Linked DNA regions of Homo sapiens: region 2 is linked to region 1. Evidence: fine-mapped expression QTL. Tissue or cell type: whole blood. Region 1 holds a variant in brackets; the other region holds the start of a gene. All regions are shown on one strand. Distances are between the middles of the regions.

Region 1 (8,260 bases):
GGAAGGCGTTCAGTCAGAGTTCGAGCCTCTGCATCCACCAGAGAGTCCACACTGGAGAGAAACCCTATAGATGTTGTGGATGTGGGAAGGCCTTCAGTCAGAGTTCGAGCCTGTGCATCCACCAGAGAGTCCACACAGGAGAGAAACCTTTCAAATGTGATGAGTGCGGAAAGGCCTTCAGTCAGAGTACGAGCCTCTGCATCCACCAGAGAGTCCACACAAAGGAGAGAAACCATCTCAAAATATCAGTTATATAAAACGTTTTGCTAAGAGTTTAAAATCTTAAAACCCATAAGTGCCACTAGGAAGGAAACCCTGTATATACCTACATTGACCCAAGAAATATTTACGCAATCCCTAGCAGAACATTGTTTCTGAGGAGGCATATGTGAGATTGATTTGTTGGTTCATGCCAAGTGTGTTCCACAGGTTGACTTTGAATGTGGACCTCTGAGCATCCACGCAGGATGGCTCTCAGGTCCCAGTCACAGACGTCGCTTCCTGGGATTCCAGCACGATGCCTCCATAGTTGAAAGACTACACAAAAAGCCACAATCATTGCCCGGCCTCCTGAGTCACCTTCTATCTATACTTTGCTTAAAAGCTATCCCAGATACTCCCCCTTGAGGAGCTCATGCCCTTCCTTCCTCTTTATTCGAGCATACTGGCAATGCATTGGAAAACAGACAGCTCCCACTAAGATCACGTTCTGGTATTTCTGAGGTTAACACTTGATTTAGCCCCTACATATCTTTCCATATATCCTATTATTTCTGAATATATGTCCTCAAAATCCCCATAAATATCCATCCCTTCCTAGATGGCATTAACTTTCATTTTAGATTTTAGGTGACTCATAATTCCCATTCACTTAGCCTATCAGAAAAGTCATTGGCAGACATATATGTCCTTGAACCTTTTTTATTTGTGTGGATTCTGCTCATCACTGTCTCTGTTAGACTTATTTTGTAGTGGCTGCATCACATATTTTTCACTTGAATTTTTTTGGAAATAGCTGAATGTAAATAGCAGGGAGGAAGAAGCAAGCAAAGTGAGAGCTTTTCTTCATCCAGAATTGCCCTCTGGGCTCCTTTGGTAACAGATGGAGCTCCTTCCTAGCTAGGGAGACCTTATGAGAAGTGGATGGTAGGAGGAGTCACTAATGTTTCAATCTCTATTTCTGTAATCTTGGGCAATAATGCATAGGAGTTCTTGATACCCCTTCATTGATTACTGTGTATCAGTTCTTTGTTAGGCATGAACGTCTTTATTAATCCATCATTCTTTTCTTCATTCAACAAATATGTATTGAACACCTCCTATATGCCAGGCACTGTGCTAGGTGCTGGGAATACCACTGATGAGACAGACAAGGTCCCTACTCTTGTGGAGTTTACTTCTGGTGGAGGAGACAGATGATAAGTAAACAAATAAATAATGTAGTTTGAGATAGTGATTAAGTGCTATGAAGAAAATAAACTAGGGTGATGATTTTAGTGGTGGGGTGGGGTGGGGGTGGGGTGACATTAGCTAGTGGTCAGGGAGGCCTTTCCGCGGTGGGATGTTGAGCTGAGGCCGGAGGAGAAGTAGCAGTCGCTGGCAGAGCACACAGGCTGCTCTGGGGGATGAGCTGGTGCGTTTAAGGAACAGGCCAGCACTGGCATTCGCAAGCAGTGGGGAAGGGGAGAGATGCCGAGGTGGTCAGTATCCTGACTTTCAGAGGCCTTTTTTTGTTTGTTTTAATTTTTGCTAGATTGATATTAAAAACTCATGTGGAGGAACTCAAGGAATGTTTAGAAGACCAAAAGTCCCCAATGACAGGAACAAAAGCAACCAATTTTTAACTTTCTCTTCTCATTCCTGTTTTCATTGATTTCCCACATGTAGTCCTTTTGCTCAGGAAGTCTTTGGGGAAATTAAGGATCTTTGAAGCTCTGAAATAGGTGATCAGGTTAGTGGTGTCTGTCAGCTGTCTAAGAGGTTGGAAAATGAACTACTCAAGATAGTCACGAAAATACTGAAAGTTTGATTTTTCTTTCCATATTTGAATTAATTTTTTCTGTTTGACTGGAAGGGGTTTTTGTATAACTAAAACCTCAGCGCATAAAGGAGATTTAAAAGGAGCACATGATTTAGTGGGTGGGCCATGAAACTAGAGATGGGATTTGGGGGTGAATTTGTCAATATCTGGATTTTAATCCAGACATCTCTGCTAACAAGCCTTTGGTAAGTCACTTCAGATACTTTTCCTCCTTTTTACAAAGAGAGGGCTGGCTTAGTTATTTGCCAAAGCCCCTTCCAGGCCTGAATTCCACAAGTACGATTTACTGTAGTGTCTTATCACTCTTTCATGTCACAATAGCGTGGAGCATTAGAGAAAAGCCTAGACTTTTAGTTGATAGCCAGTTGAAATATCATTGATAGAATTTTAGTTTTAGGAAAAATTGGTTTGATTTCTAGCTTTATTACTATTAGGTATGTGAGCTTGGGCAAATCGCTTAATCTTTGAGTCTAGTTTTCTCTCAAAATGAGAACATTAGGCTAAATGATTTCCGAGTTTCCAGCTAGTCCTAGAGTTCTATATTTCTACATAGTTGAATTATTTTATCATGCTGTTGCTGGGGAATATGACTAACCCTTTTGAAGCTACTAATTTTATGTCGAGCTTTAAAGTCCATAATTGTTATCTTCAGAAAATATTATTTGACCTACAGTATGTCCAAATCAATTTAATAAAATCGCTTTATAACAGGGTTCTGTGCTTGACATGTAGTTGTGTGAATTCAGTGGTCGTGTGTGGGAGTATGGGTATGGGTGTGTGGTGGAGAATTGGCTTGCACATTAAGCCCAGGGTGACCATGTAATTTATTGTCCAAACTGAGCACTTGAGAGTGAAGGGAGGGGGTGCTGTTGATACTCACATCTGGACAACAAGCCTCGAATGGGCCTTTCTCGGGCACACTAAGGTGTGAGGACACCTTGGTCTGAGGTCACAGCCACACAGGTAATAAATGACTCAAGTCAGGAATAATCCATCTGGAGAGAGCACAGTCCACTGAGAGGACTGCCTCAGCTCGGCTGTGGCTCTGTGTTCACGGCGAATACAGGCCCACAGCTCTTCTAAGAAAACACCAACCTCGATTTTCACACACAGTTTAATCTTAAAATGTTGGCAGCTAATTCCTTTTCCTTGGGTGATCCATTTTGGTGCTTTCTGTGATCTTCCTGGTGCCCCTTGGCAGTTCCTCCAAGCCCTGCCCTGGCCCCTGCTGACTGCAGCCCATGCCTGGGAAGGCGTGAAGTGCTGTCAGCTGAAGCAGAGGGGGCCCACGTTCTGTGCCGCAGTCAACAGTCTGACTGGCTGTGGCGTCTACCAGCTTTGAGAGACAAGTCTGCATTGCAATTCCACCATTGGGATGGGAGCAACCCAAACTAGCCCTTCTGATGGGGGTGGGGGGTGGGGGCAAGGGTAGGTCATCTGTGATGGGATTCACTCTTGGTGAATCTGCTAGGATTTAGAGTGTGAGCCAAGATAAGTCCAGAATGACTGCATGGTTTCTAACTTGGAAGCATGAATAAACGGCAGATTGCCTCTTGCAGATAGGAAGAACTCTTTGCATCAGAGTCCAACATTGAGATAGTCTACTGCGTGAGAATGTGGGCACAGCTCGTCAGGCCATCTCAGAAATTGAAGAGGGATTACTTTGTGTTGTGTGAGCATGGACATGATTCCTTCCAAGGGACCTTCTAGCTCTTGGCTCTGTTCTTAAAATTTTTGAATTATTTCTCAGTCTTTGTAATGTACTGATATTCTCAGAAATTTGAAAAACTAGGTGAATGGAAAGCAAATATCAGAAGCAGATGGAAAATATACTCAGTGGTAAAATCTAGGAAAAGATGAGAAAGGTTGATACTACTACAGGGCAAGAGCCATATATAAATAGCAAAGCTGAGTTAAGATCTATGGATTAGAGAGGAAGAGAGGAAAAATGAAGATGATAGAGCACTTCCTCTAACCATATTCATTTTCTTAATTTTTCTAAACCTCAAGTTTCTCATCTTTAAAATGGTTTTGAAAATATCTAATTCATGGAAATGTTGGGAGAAGTAAATAAACGTAAAGTGCCTAGCATTTAGTGCTATAACGAATTCCTATTCCCAGTTGCCTATTAAGGAAGAAAGGTCATGTTATTTGGATTCCTTTTTGTTTTGCTGAGCTCTGTGGTGGGTTTGGACATCTAAAATTGGGGTAGGACCTGGAGAGGGCTGAATTGCTCCACATGGTAAGAGAGAGAACTTGAATCTCCTGGGGTAGTTGGAGGTAAGAAAACAAAGGGTAGACTTGGAGTGGGAGAGAGGACCAGGGAACCAGTGGAGTAGGATGGTCTGAAGTTCTGAGCTCTTGTGTAGGAAAACTTCGTGACCACAAAGTCTTTCCCTAAAGTTAGGGGTGTTTGGCATGGTGGATTTCTTATGGAAACTGGTGGAAGGGCTGAGTGCTGTATCCAGGGTGAAATGGGGCAACACGTAAGTACCACACATAAATATAGGAGCCAGAAGAGGGTGCCCCTGAGAACAAGCTCCAAGGAATATGCAGAATATGCAGAAATCTTCAGGGTAGCTAAAAGCTGCTACAGGCCATGGAATTAATGGAGTTTTGAGTCAAGTTTACCCAAACCCCTAAGGGGCAGGGAGGCCTGGGATATCTTTATTTCCACTCTCAATGTACATGAAGTAGAATAACTTTATAATCATAAGTAAGTTGAAACTTAAGAATTTTTTTTATCATTCTCATTTTAACATATTACAAAACACATGAACAAATCCAGAGATCCCAAGGCTGTGTGTGTGTTTATGCCAGTAAGAACTTGTCATAAATATCGGTGGAAAATGACACTTTATACCAAAGCAATTTTATTGCTCAGATTTAGGCATATGTAAATAAACTGCATTTCTAGAGTAAAGTAGCACATACAGATTTTGTGTATTTTTAGGCGGATGTATGCATTTTATAGACTCTGTACCTTCCTAAATACTGTGTCTAAATATGGCTTCGCTGAGAGACCGACTTTCC[C/T]TCCCCCTCTTAATTCTTTGCTGGCCCTGATCCAGGTCTTCTCTGCATCATGAATTATGGTGGGGGTGTTGTATTTACAGAATTTTAAAACCTAAGACCTGCAGACGGCTTTTGGGGAGGTCTAGAACCTTTTTAAGTTATGTGCAGAATTTTGTGTACCTGTAGGTCTATGCATTTTTCTAGGAAAGGGGGCTTTCCTTATGTTTGTGACTCTAAGAGATAAAGAACACTGGCTGGCATATGGTTACTCGTTGTTTGGGGATCTTGGGAGGCAAAAGGGGTGCCTAAGAGTTCCAGTTAGTGGAATGGATAGGAAATGATGGGTATAATAAACGGAGGAAAAAACACAACGCTGTGTTGTGAGGAAAGAGGGAAAAGGACGTTGGCATAAAATGGAAGGATACATGTGCATGTGTTGTTATGCTGGGCCCAGGAGGTAGGCTGTGTGGCAGTTTCGATGTCATACGCTTAAGACAACAGTTCTGCGAACAGTGTATTAAAAGAATATAGGTGAGGACAATTGAGTATTCAGAGGGGACTGGCTGGACGTGGACGGAATTGGCTACCTGAATGGAAAACACTAGATCTCAACTGAATCTGTCTTGGTTACAGAGGAGGCAGTTCTTGCTGTAAAATGGGTGAGGGCCCCAGTACTGGTGTGGGTTGTATTTAGGTTCTCAAATAGACCTATTCATATTGCTCAATGCCATGTTCTCTCATGTCTAATTTTTATGTCCTACCTCACTTGCCTGGGATCTCTGACTGTTTAAGTCAGTCCTCTTTAGTCTTCATCCTGTCTGTCCCCAAAATGTCTTTTTTTTTTTTTTTTTTTTTTACCCCTGATACTCTTCCATCCTTGTGTGCCCCCCGCTCCCCTTTCTGAGATAAGGTCAAGACCCACAGGGACTTAGTCTCAAGGGTAAGTCCTGTTTCTACAGTCTGTGGAGGATGACGGGAGAGTCTGGTAGAGCAGCAAGCCCTACTTCCTGGAGCTGTTGTTGCCACATTGTTATAGTTGAAACAGGCAGTGTCTGGAAAGAACTGAATCCTCTGTGTTTTGCTTGCCTCACTTGATCCAGTAAACATTAGGAGAAGAAATTAAAAAAACAGGAAAGGATAAGATGGCAGGAGTAAGTTGAAGCATATTGTTAATCATAGTAAATGTGAACTGGTTAAATTCAGCTACTTAGGGACATTTTCAAGTTGATTTGTAAATGACGTCACAAACGTGTATATGATGGTTATGGGAGACCACCTAAAATAAAGGGGTGACCCAAAAGGCTGACAGTGAAGGGGTTGAAAAAGATCAGGAAATGCTAAAAGAAAGCAACTGGTGGTAGTATTGTCAGTCCGTTTATGAAAGGAATAATTTGTCAAGAAGATAGTTATATACTTTCATTAGCTCACAACATAGCTTTGAAAGATAGAACATGGTAAGAAATTAAGCAATTCCCAGTCACAGCAAGATATGTTAACCCTCACCCATCAGAATTTGAAAATCAACTAGACAAAGAAGGATCTGGCTATTTAACTAACACTGTTACCAAACTTGATGTGTCCACTGTGTGTGAACTTTGTGCAGCAGATCCTCTTGGAATGGTCATAGAAATTAGCCATGCTTTGTGCCAGAAAGGAAATCTCACCAGATTCCAAAATGTAGAAATCTCACAGGTCATATTCTCTGACTATAATGTAATAAAAAATTGAAGTCACTGAGAAAGAGCCAAAAGTCCTGTCCATTTCATCCCAAGTTACAAATAAAGAGGAAATCAAGTGTAGTAGAGATGAGTGGCAGAGATGGCACTGTGGGGCACGTCTTGTGGATGGGGCCGAAATGAAAAACTTTCATAGCCTTCAATTCATTTATGAGATAAGGAATATGAAACTAAGCAGTCAAACAAGCTGGAAAAAATACTGCAGGATTTTTAAATTTTACCAAATGACTTTTGGGCCTTCACCAAGATCATCATATGCTCCTGTTCCTTTCATTTGTTAATGTACTGAGTCATTTTGAAATATAAGGATAACATCTTTTATGGTCATAAAGTATTACATCCTTCCACCTTTGGTGGATTTTTGAAAATTTGCATGTGTGTAACCTTAAGAGAGAGTCTTTAGTTATGAATTGATTTAATCAGGGATTTAAAAGCTTTCTATCCTCCTTATTCTGGAATAAATTAAATAGCACAGGTTAATAACTGTGCCCCTGGACTGTATGGGCAGTATTCATACAAGAAAAAGTAATAAAATCTGTGTCCCACTTCACTTGCCTGGAGCATAAATTAAGGTAACATCTCATATTGTTTAAATCAACCATCTGATCCTTGAAAGTGATAGAACTCATCCAAAATGGCTCAGATCCTTGAGGGTGGAGCTTAGAAGCTTTGACAGTGTTTTTACTCTTTTCAAAACTAATAGGTCAATTTAGATCTTTCCCCCTTATTTTTGATAATTTATAGTTTTCTAGGAAAAAACCTCCCTTTTTTGGGGACCTTCAAATATATTTTAGAGATGTGTATAACTCTAAATTCTTAAATCTCATTGGCATTTTGATAAAATCTTACATCTCCCATCGTATGTTTATATTTTCCATTTTTTTCTTTATTGGACTTGCCACCCTCTCTACTTCCACTCCCCCGAAGAACCAGACATTGGCTTTGGTGATCACTTCTGCTGGGGTATTTTCCTGTCATATTTATTACTTTCTTTTATTATCACTAATCATATCCTCTTCCCTTCCTTAATTTAGCTTATTATCTTTTTTCTGAAACTTTTTTTTTTAGTTGCTAGAATCCCATGAATTAATCCCAATAGGCTTTATTTTCAGTGATCTAGTTCCGGGTCAGCAAACTATGGCCCTGGGCCAAATCTAGCTCATCTCCTGTTTTTGTATAGCCTCCAAGCTAAAAATGTGTATGTTTCTAAATGGTTTTTAACACATTGATATTTTCTGAATACGAAAACTTAATGAAATTCACATTGTGTCCATAAATACAGTTTTATGGGAACAAAACCATGTTGATCCATTCTTGGCTTGTCTGTGGCTGCTTTGATGCTGCAACAGCAGAATTGCAGAGTTGCAACAGAGATTGAATGGCCCCCAGAGCCTAAAATATTCTTTCTCTGGCTTTTTACCAAAAAAATTTCCCCATCTCTGGTCTAAGTCACTTGTACCAACTGGCTGGA
Region 2 (8,000 bases), 82 kb before region 1:
GCATGTCTTGGAGACTTTGAGGCTGTGGGCCCTGAGAAAGCACAGGTGGCTGGACAGTGCCACCTCCGTTGTTCTCTGTGATTGCAGAAGCCATCGAGGCCCTCCCGCTTGCCAACACGCCAGAAGTGTTTGGTCTCCACCCCAACGCTGAGATTGGCTATTACACGCAGGCGGCTCGAGACATGTGGGCTCACCTGCTGGAGCTGCAGCCTCAGACAGGTAAACTCTACTCAGGAGGACTTCATTAGTTTGATTGGGGTTTTACGATTGCTTCTTGTAGCCCTCCCACGTTGCTGATGCCTTTCCCAGAACTGGAAGGCTCAGGAGGCTCCGGTTCTGCACGTGGATGCCTTGCTTTCTCTGAAAAGTGTCCTGGTTTTAGGGGAATCCAGCAGTGGTATCAGCCGCGATGATTATATTGGCCAAGTGGCCAAAGAAATAGAAAACAAGATGCCCAAAGTCTTTGACTTGGACCAGGTGAGGAAGCGCCTCGGAACAGGACTCTCCCCCACTTCGGTGGTGCTCCTGCAGGAACTGGAACGCTTCAACAAGCTTGTGGTCCGGATGACGAAGTCTCTGGCTGAACTTCAAAGGGTGAGCCTGTCTCTCATGTGCAGATTACTGCCTAGATACGTGGCACCTGGGGTTCTGATAGAGTCCTGCCCGATTGCTCTTGATTCTAAATAGGCCTTGGCTGGAGAAGTTGGAATGAGCAATGAGTTAGATGATGTGGCCAGGTCTCTTTTTATCGGGCATATCCCTAATATCTGGAGAAGGCTTGCTCCTGACACCTTAAAGTCCCTTGGAAACTGGATGGTCTACTTCCTGCGGCGGTTCAGCCAGTACATGTTGTGGGTAAGTGGCACGTCACCGCCTCCTCTCTGCCGATTCAGGTGTCAGCCTAGACTCCTCAAACCACCTCCCAATCCCCTCTTTCCATTGCCCAGCAGTAACCTCTGTTAAAGTTTATTGGGTGCTCTGGAAATGGTCTGAGATTCTTACAAGCCTATCTGTATCTTTTGTTTTTCCTTTTCTTTTGAAGACTTTGAAGCATACTCTTACATACCCGATTATTTTATCTAAGTGTATATCTTGGCACTTGTTCCATATTAGTACACAGCTAGCTCGTTCTTTTTTAGAGTATGCCATTGTACAAATGTTTCATATCCTTTCTCCTCCTTCTGTATCCTAAAAATATGGTAACTGCCTACATTTCGGTGGTTACCATTTTTTTTTTTTTTTTGCTAATACAAATAACATTCTGGTGCACATGTATATGAATATGCATAGGGGTATATTCCATGGGTAAATTCTGACAGTGGAAGAGTTGGATCAAAGAGCTTGTGCATTTTAAATTTTGATAGCTCTTGTTGGATGGTTCTTAGAAAGGCTGAAACCACAGTCTATGAGAGTGCTTCTTTCCTCACTCCGCTGCAATGCTGCGTTCTTAACATTTTGGATCACTGTCTCCCTGATAGGTGAAAATAATATCTCATTGTTTTGCATGTCTTTAATTATGGTGAGTCTGAGCGTATTTTGCATGCTTTACAGACATTTTGTGTTTGTTTTTCTGTGAATTGTCCTTTTGTATCTGGATTTCATTTTTAGTGAGGTCTCCATCTTTCTCATTGATGTTTAAGAGCTCTTTGCAAATCAAAGAAATTAGCCCTTGGTCTGCCAGTGTTGCAGGTATTTCTCCAAGCTTGTCATAAGTCTTGACTTTGCTTACGGTATTTTTTCCACAGAAAAGCTTTACATTTTTCCGTAGTCAAACCTACAAGGCTTTTCTTTTTTATCCTGGGCTTTGTATTTCCTACTCCACGATATGAAAGCATTCATTGGAGATGTGGCCCAGTACTTTTGTGGTTTTATTTATTTTTATATCTAAATCTTTGATCTACCTGGAATGTGGCAGTCCAGATTGTTTTTCTCAGACAGGCGGCCAGTTGTGCCAACGCCATCTTTTGCCACTTAGGTGAAATATGTCTTTTATCATAAACTAAACTTCCAGGCCAGCTTTGACCTGGCATTGGATGGCAGCCCCAGGCTCCCAGCACTTGTCCTCTCTTCTCTCCAGGTGACCGAGAGCGAGCCCAGCGTGATGTGGCTCTCGGGGCTGCACATCCCTGAGTCCTACCTCACGGCGCTGGTGCAGGCCACCTGCCGGAAGAACGGCTGGCCACTGGACCGCTCCACCTTGTTCACACAAGTGACCAAGTTCCAGGATGCAGATGAAGTGAATGAGCGGGCGGGACAAGGTACCGTCAGCTCGTTAGGGATCCACAGCCTCTCACTTAGGATTTCTCTCCCTGAACCACCTCCAACTCAAAGGGACAGGCATAGCGTGGGCCTAAATGGGCCAGGCCATGTTTGAAAGCCAGCCTGCTGCAAATATTTCCTGTGTCTCTGCACTGCCCATGTCTTAACACCTCTGAGGGTGGATACGGAAGTTTCTCTTCCACTTTCTCCGTTGAGACCTGGGGTCTATGGCAGGGGAGACCTGAACCATGTTCACTCTGCTAGCTCATGGCAAGTGGGCTCCTAGGTCAGAATTAGCTCTTGCAAAAACCATCAGGTGGCTTTCTTGTAACCCCTGACGGGGCCAGGGGCATGGGAGCCACAGAGCAGCATGGACTAACTTGGTTGGAACTCTTTGATTATGCCAGAACTTCAGGTCCCTTAGACATTGGTTACTGACTGTGCAAATGAGAGCTGGAAACTGCTGTTTCCCCGGGTCCATGTTGTCTTAGAGTTCTTTTAACTGCAAGGAACAAAAGCTCTTTTGAGATGGCTTAAGGACTGGGGACTTACGGTAAAGATGCAGGGACTCTCCAGGTCTCAGTGGCAGGGGAGGTGGCAGGTGTCCGGGCCACCACTCTCTCTGGGGCCACAGGAGTGTGTTCCTCTCTTTGCACATCTGCTGGGTCCTCCTCCCCGGAGACCACTTTCTCTGTGAGGCTTCGACTTCCTGCTCCCCAGCCACTTCGGCTCACAGGGTAGCTGGGGTTGCCATGGTGCCCATTCTGACTCTGGGACCATGCATCTTTCTAGCCTGGGGGCCCAGGGTGGTCTAAGTCCGTGGGCCTTGATGCCCCAGGAATGAGGATTCCTGGGGGAGAGGCCACCGCCCCACACCCATTTCTCTGGGCCATGGGGCAGGGCCACAGGGTCTCCTGTCTGGGCTGCTCCTCCACAGAGGGAAGGTGGGCAGGACAGAAATGCTGGAGAAGGGCCTGGGCTGTCCCCAATGCGCTGGGGAGGAGGCCAGCCAGTGGCCTGTGTGTCGCTGTGTGTGCGCCTGATAGAGCCACTCCGTGGCAGGCTGTGCATGCTCCAGTTGTATCCAGTCTCTGCCTTGTGTCCCTAGGATGCTTTGTCTCAGGACTGTACCTGGAAGGTGCTGACTGGGATATAGAAAAAGGATGTCTTATCAAGAGCAAACCCAAGGTGCTGGTTGTGGACCTGCCGATCCTGAAGATCATCCCCATTGAAGCCCATCGCCTCAAGCTGCAGGTGAAGGTCCCAGCCCCTCCTCTCTGACACCAGGGCCCTTCCTCTTCTGACTGTAGTTATGGCTGAGGTGGTTTCCAACAGTCCTACTTTTTAAAACAGGGGTGCCTAAGCTTTATGGGCTGGGGAGAGTCTTGGAGCCGTGATAAAAGCTACGGATAGCTGCTTCCTGGAAAAGGCGCGGCTGTATGTGTGTGTGGATGCCGGTCCTTCCAGAGGTGTCAGGCTCAAGCTGTGATCCTGTGGTCTAGACTAACCAAGGGGAGACTCCCTCCCTTCTTGCAAAATGCTGCAGACATTGCCTGAGTCATAAAGTGGTTCCCGCTGGTGTGGACAGCAGATGTCTTCTGCTCTGCCTGGGCCAGGACCCACTTTTAACCAGGGTGTCAGTGTGAAGCCAGGTCCCCGTGAAGCTGGCGGAGGGTGGCCCTGAGCAGCCCCAGCCTTGTGCGTGTTCTCAGGTGCAGTCTTGCACAGGGGCCCCTGCCTGTCAAGACTTACACTGCACCTCTGCCTTTATCCCTCTGCACCCTCTCTCCGTGGGGGCATCTCACCTGCCTTTCCCTTGCAGAATACTTTCCGGACCCCCGTCTACACCACCTCCATGAGAAGGAACGCCATGGGAGTCGGCTTGGTTTTTGAAGCTGATCTCTTTACCACGAGGCACATTTCTCACTGGGTGCTGCAAGGAGTATGCCTCACCCTGAATTCTGATTAACCTTTGGGTGAAGAAAACTGCTTAATGAATTCGGAGCCTGGGGTTGTCAGAGTGATCGGGTCTGCTGTCATTTCTTGGGGCCTCTCAAGAGGCAGGAGGGGGACTGACACTGATTTTTCATTTGAAATCAGCCACTTAAATCTCTTTCCATACAAATTAACCTGAATGGTTTTGTTTTTAATACTACTTTTTAAAAGGAATTTATATAATCAAAAAGTAAATATTGGAGAGTATTTTAAGATGTGTGGAGTTTTCTTTTCCTTCTCAGAGAAAACACTTGATTAGGCAAAAGTGCCTGGCATACATAGCATTGGCACAAGTGAGAATCCTAATGTAATTTCCAAAGGTGTGTTTTCGATGATCCAGGTCTGTTTCAGCAGATGCTCCTTTTTGGCAAGAAGGGCTGATGATGTCGGGCACAGAGCAGAAGTGACCAGTCACCTGGAGCCACTTCTCCCCCTTCCAGAACTCTCTGGCCCTAGCTTCTTTGGCTCTGACCTGCTACGGCGACTGTGAAGTTGTTGAGCTTAGTGTTTAGTTCCTGCATGAGCTTCTACCCCCAGCCTGCCTGGGTCTGTGTGGGGTCAGGTAAGGACACAGAACCTCCAGGACCAGTGGTCACTGGGCACCCCTTCCCTCTGTGCACCATGAGGCTGGCCTGGAGCCCTGGCTGGCCACCTGGAGGTGAGGGGTGGCTTCACTCCATGAGGGAGGAGAGGGGCTAGCACGGGCAGCACAGTGGGCAGGGGCCATCAGAGGCAAAAGCAGCTTCCCACAGAAGCTCAGGAGCGCAGCACATTCTAAGGACTAGCTCTGGGCCGGGAGGAGGCCGGAGTCGCTTCTGGGACCTGTGATTGCTCTCCCTCCTGCAGTCTCCTAGCCCTCCTTCAGGTGTTTGTTTAATAAAAGACACAAAACAGAAGGAAGGCAGGTTTAGAAAATAAAGTTTGTTGGGATCTTAAACATTTTGGATAAAACTAACAAAAAAATATGAACACACATTCAGGTTGTGGTGCTATGAGGAGTAGCGTCATCTTATTTAGTTCCTTGAGATACACGCACGGCTGCTCGGTGATCGGTGCCGCCCTGGGAAAGGTTGGTCAGGAGGTGACAGGGGTCTCCAGGAGGAGCTCGGGAGGTGACAAGGGTCTCCAGGAGGGAGCAGGGGCTGCTCGGCCAGGCTGCCCTGGAGCTTGAGGATAAGGTCAAGGTTGGTATGTGTTGCTCCGACTTGAGAATGAATTAGGTGTGTGACTGTGTGGCATCGTGAACATCAGTAGTGACGCAGCCGTGGCCTGGGCTTTGCCTGCAGCGCACTTAGGTTACACGGAGCGGGATCAGAAGCAAGCGATTCGGCACACAGGCGTTTGGCCACAGCAATTAGGAAATACATATTCTGCGGCAGGGACACGATCATATTTTGGTGTGAAGAAGAGGGCAAGAGAAGCAGAAGGAGAATGGGTCGGTAGGTGTGAAAAGTGTTTGGCATGCATGGGATTAAACAGAAAAGGTGTGGCTGAGATTTCCCAGTGGTGCTCACAGTGCATGGACAGCGCGGGGTGGGGCACGGCGGGCTTCACACAGTTCTGTCCGTCCCTGAGTGCTTCCTCACCACCTTGCCTCCGTTCACCTGGTCGACCGCCAGGGTCTTCACCTCGGGCTGGGCCTGCGGCGGGGTGGCGTGGTGGATCCGATGTGCCACCCCGACGTGGGCCTTGTGCGGCTTTTCGCGGGCCGGGCTGTGCTGCTCGCCGCTTCGGTCGGAGGCGATGGGGGGGATGACGAGGGGCCTCTCTTTGATGAGGTGGACCTCGGCGGACTCCCTAGCCAGCAGAAATGGGGTGGGGTCGGGCATAGCATCCACTGGTTCCCGCAAAAGGAGTTTCCTGCTCTCTGCCCCGAATCTGTAGACCTCTTCAAATTCCGGGTGCAAGGGGGCTGAGAGGCTCTTTTTCATGCGGCGGCGAGGCGTTTCGGGTAGCTTGTCTTTGGGGGGCGCTGGCTTGTAGCTGGCCAGCACGGGGCTCCCTGACGGGCTGGCATCTGAGGTCCCGCTGGAGCTCATGAGCTTCTTCTTGGCGGCGTGCAGCTGGGAGGTCAGGTAGGCGATGGTGCTGGCCCGCTGCTCCAGCTCGCTAGACAGCAGGGTCAGCTTGTGACTCTTGGCCTTCAGCTCCTCCAGGTACTTCTTCTCTCGCTCCTTGATGGTGTTCTCCAGCACTGTGATCATCGCGTTTTTCTGCTCCAGTTCTTTCAACAACTCAGCATTTTCGTTCTCTTTCACTTTCAGTTGGGCTTCCAGCTCTTCACATCTTTTCTTTAATTCACTGCTTTTAGAAGTCCCGTCTCCTACAAGAATAAGCCGAGGAAGCAGGTGAAGAACTCATTAGACTGAGGCCGAGTGGTGAGGCCTATGGGGCAGGCGGACCTGTCTGGTGGGGGCCCTGTCTAGGCTGTGGGGGCCATGCAGAAGGCAGGGCTGTGGGGGCTCTGGAAAGACCCCTCCCCTCCCCGAGGTGGGGAGATCGGGGCATCTCAGAGGCCCTTTCCGGCTCTTAGTTCTCTGGCCTACTGCATAAAAGAATGTCTCTGAACCTTAAAGATGCTGAACTTAAAACAGGCAATTGCAGAGTATCAGACCTCAGCAAACACTTAGGATTCAACTGGCCGCAAATCCCTCTGTCTGCTCAGATGGCATTTATGGAATGCCTGCTACATTCAAAGTACTGTTTTGAAACTCAAATGTAAAAAGAATTATCCATGTCTATTGAATTAAAATTCTGATGTTTAGAGGAGAAGAGGTGTGGGGCTGTCACCTTTGCTCTGCCGCTGGCCGCCTCTCTCACCCCCCTACCCCCGTCTCTCTCACACACACACACACACAGACTCTTTCCCACTTCCTGCTCAGAGAGTGAGCTGTCTCGCCTCTGTGGCTCTTACCCTTGGTCCCTCCCTGCCCCTGCCCTAACACTTCGGGCCTCTGCCTCCTTTTGCTGTCCCTGGGTGCCTGCCCTCACCCAGTCCTTCAGCAAACACCAGCCACCTCCTTCTCCTGCTCTTCTGGTGACCTGCAGTCCCTGGTCACCTCACATAGCACCCTTGGCTCTAAACCCTGGGTCACCATCCTACTCCTCCTAACGCTGGCTGGCTGGCCATCCTCCTTGCCTGGCCCCTGGGAAGTTCTTTCTAGACTCTTCCTTGCTGGTCTGGAATTCAACTTGAGCATCAGCTCCCGATTCAGTGTCTCCTGAGCACCACTTCTCCAAGTGAGTGTCCGTCAGACACACCCTCAAGTCCAGATAGCTGCTCTGCTTCCCACATCTTGACTCTCCCAGGGAAACTGGATGCAGTCGCCATCCCTGGCCTCCCCTCCCTGACTGTGCCTTTCTGCTGGCTGCTCAGTGCTGCCCCCTCCCTGCTCCTCCAGCCGGCCTTGGTCCCACCTCCTCTCTGGTCTTCGTTTCAGCCCATCCTGTATTTAGGAAGCTTGGTCACCCCCTAAATATTCTTGTCCTCTGTTCAAAATGGTTCCTCACTGCCTAATAAAACCCAAACTGCCAGATGCCTTCCAGTTCCTCAATCTGTCCTGAATGTTATCTGCTCCCACATAAATCAAAGCTTCCATCACTCTCCCCAAGCCACCACCTCTTGTTCTGTCTCTATTGTACCCTCTGTCCTTGCCCTAACTCCAGACCTGCACGCCCAGTTTCCCTGTACCAACTCCACCACCCAGGGCCTGCCTAGGCACTGGACGCCACTGGACGTCTTTCCC

What was found. PIP is the estimated chance that this variant, and not a neighbour inherited with it, causes the effect.
Region 2: DNAH10OS starts here. The variant in region 1 is fine-mapped to the expression of DNAH10OS in whole blood (TOPMed, PIP 0.96).

The regions. Positions count from the first base shown.
Region 1 is chr12:124,012,674-124,020,933 of GRCh38, forward strand. All of the region lies in intron 2 of ZNF664-RFLNA (ZNF664-RFLNA readthrough), which reads left to right. ZNF664 (zinc finger protein 664) reads left to right here. Exons shown (of 5, transcript NM_152437.3): 5 at 1-2,754. The coding sequence ends at 257. Among named protein-coding and RNA genes, the nearest start is that of ZNF664-RFLNA, 44 kb to the left of the region's middle. The variant C/T (reference allele first, on the strand shown) is at 5,075.
Region 2 is chr12:123,931,254-123,939,253 of GRCh38, forward strand. It overlaps DNAH10OS (dynein axonemal heavy chain 10 opposite strand), which reads right to left and starts at 3,731. Exons shown (of 2, transcript NR_187476.1): 1 at 2,812-3,731. DNAH10 (dynein axonemal heavy chain 10) reads left to right here. Exons shown (of 79, transcript NM_001372106.1): 74 at 88-219; 75 at 383-594; 76 at 688-855; 77 at 2,078-2,258; 78 at 3,368-3,513; 79 at 4,082-4,461. The coding sequence ends at 4,228. It overlaps CCDC92 (coiled-coil domain containing 92), which reads right to left. Exons shown (of 5, transcript NM_025140.3): 5 at 4,373-6,577. The coding sequence ends at 5,805. RefSeq lists enhancers at 6,796-7,296, 7,297-7,797.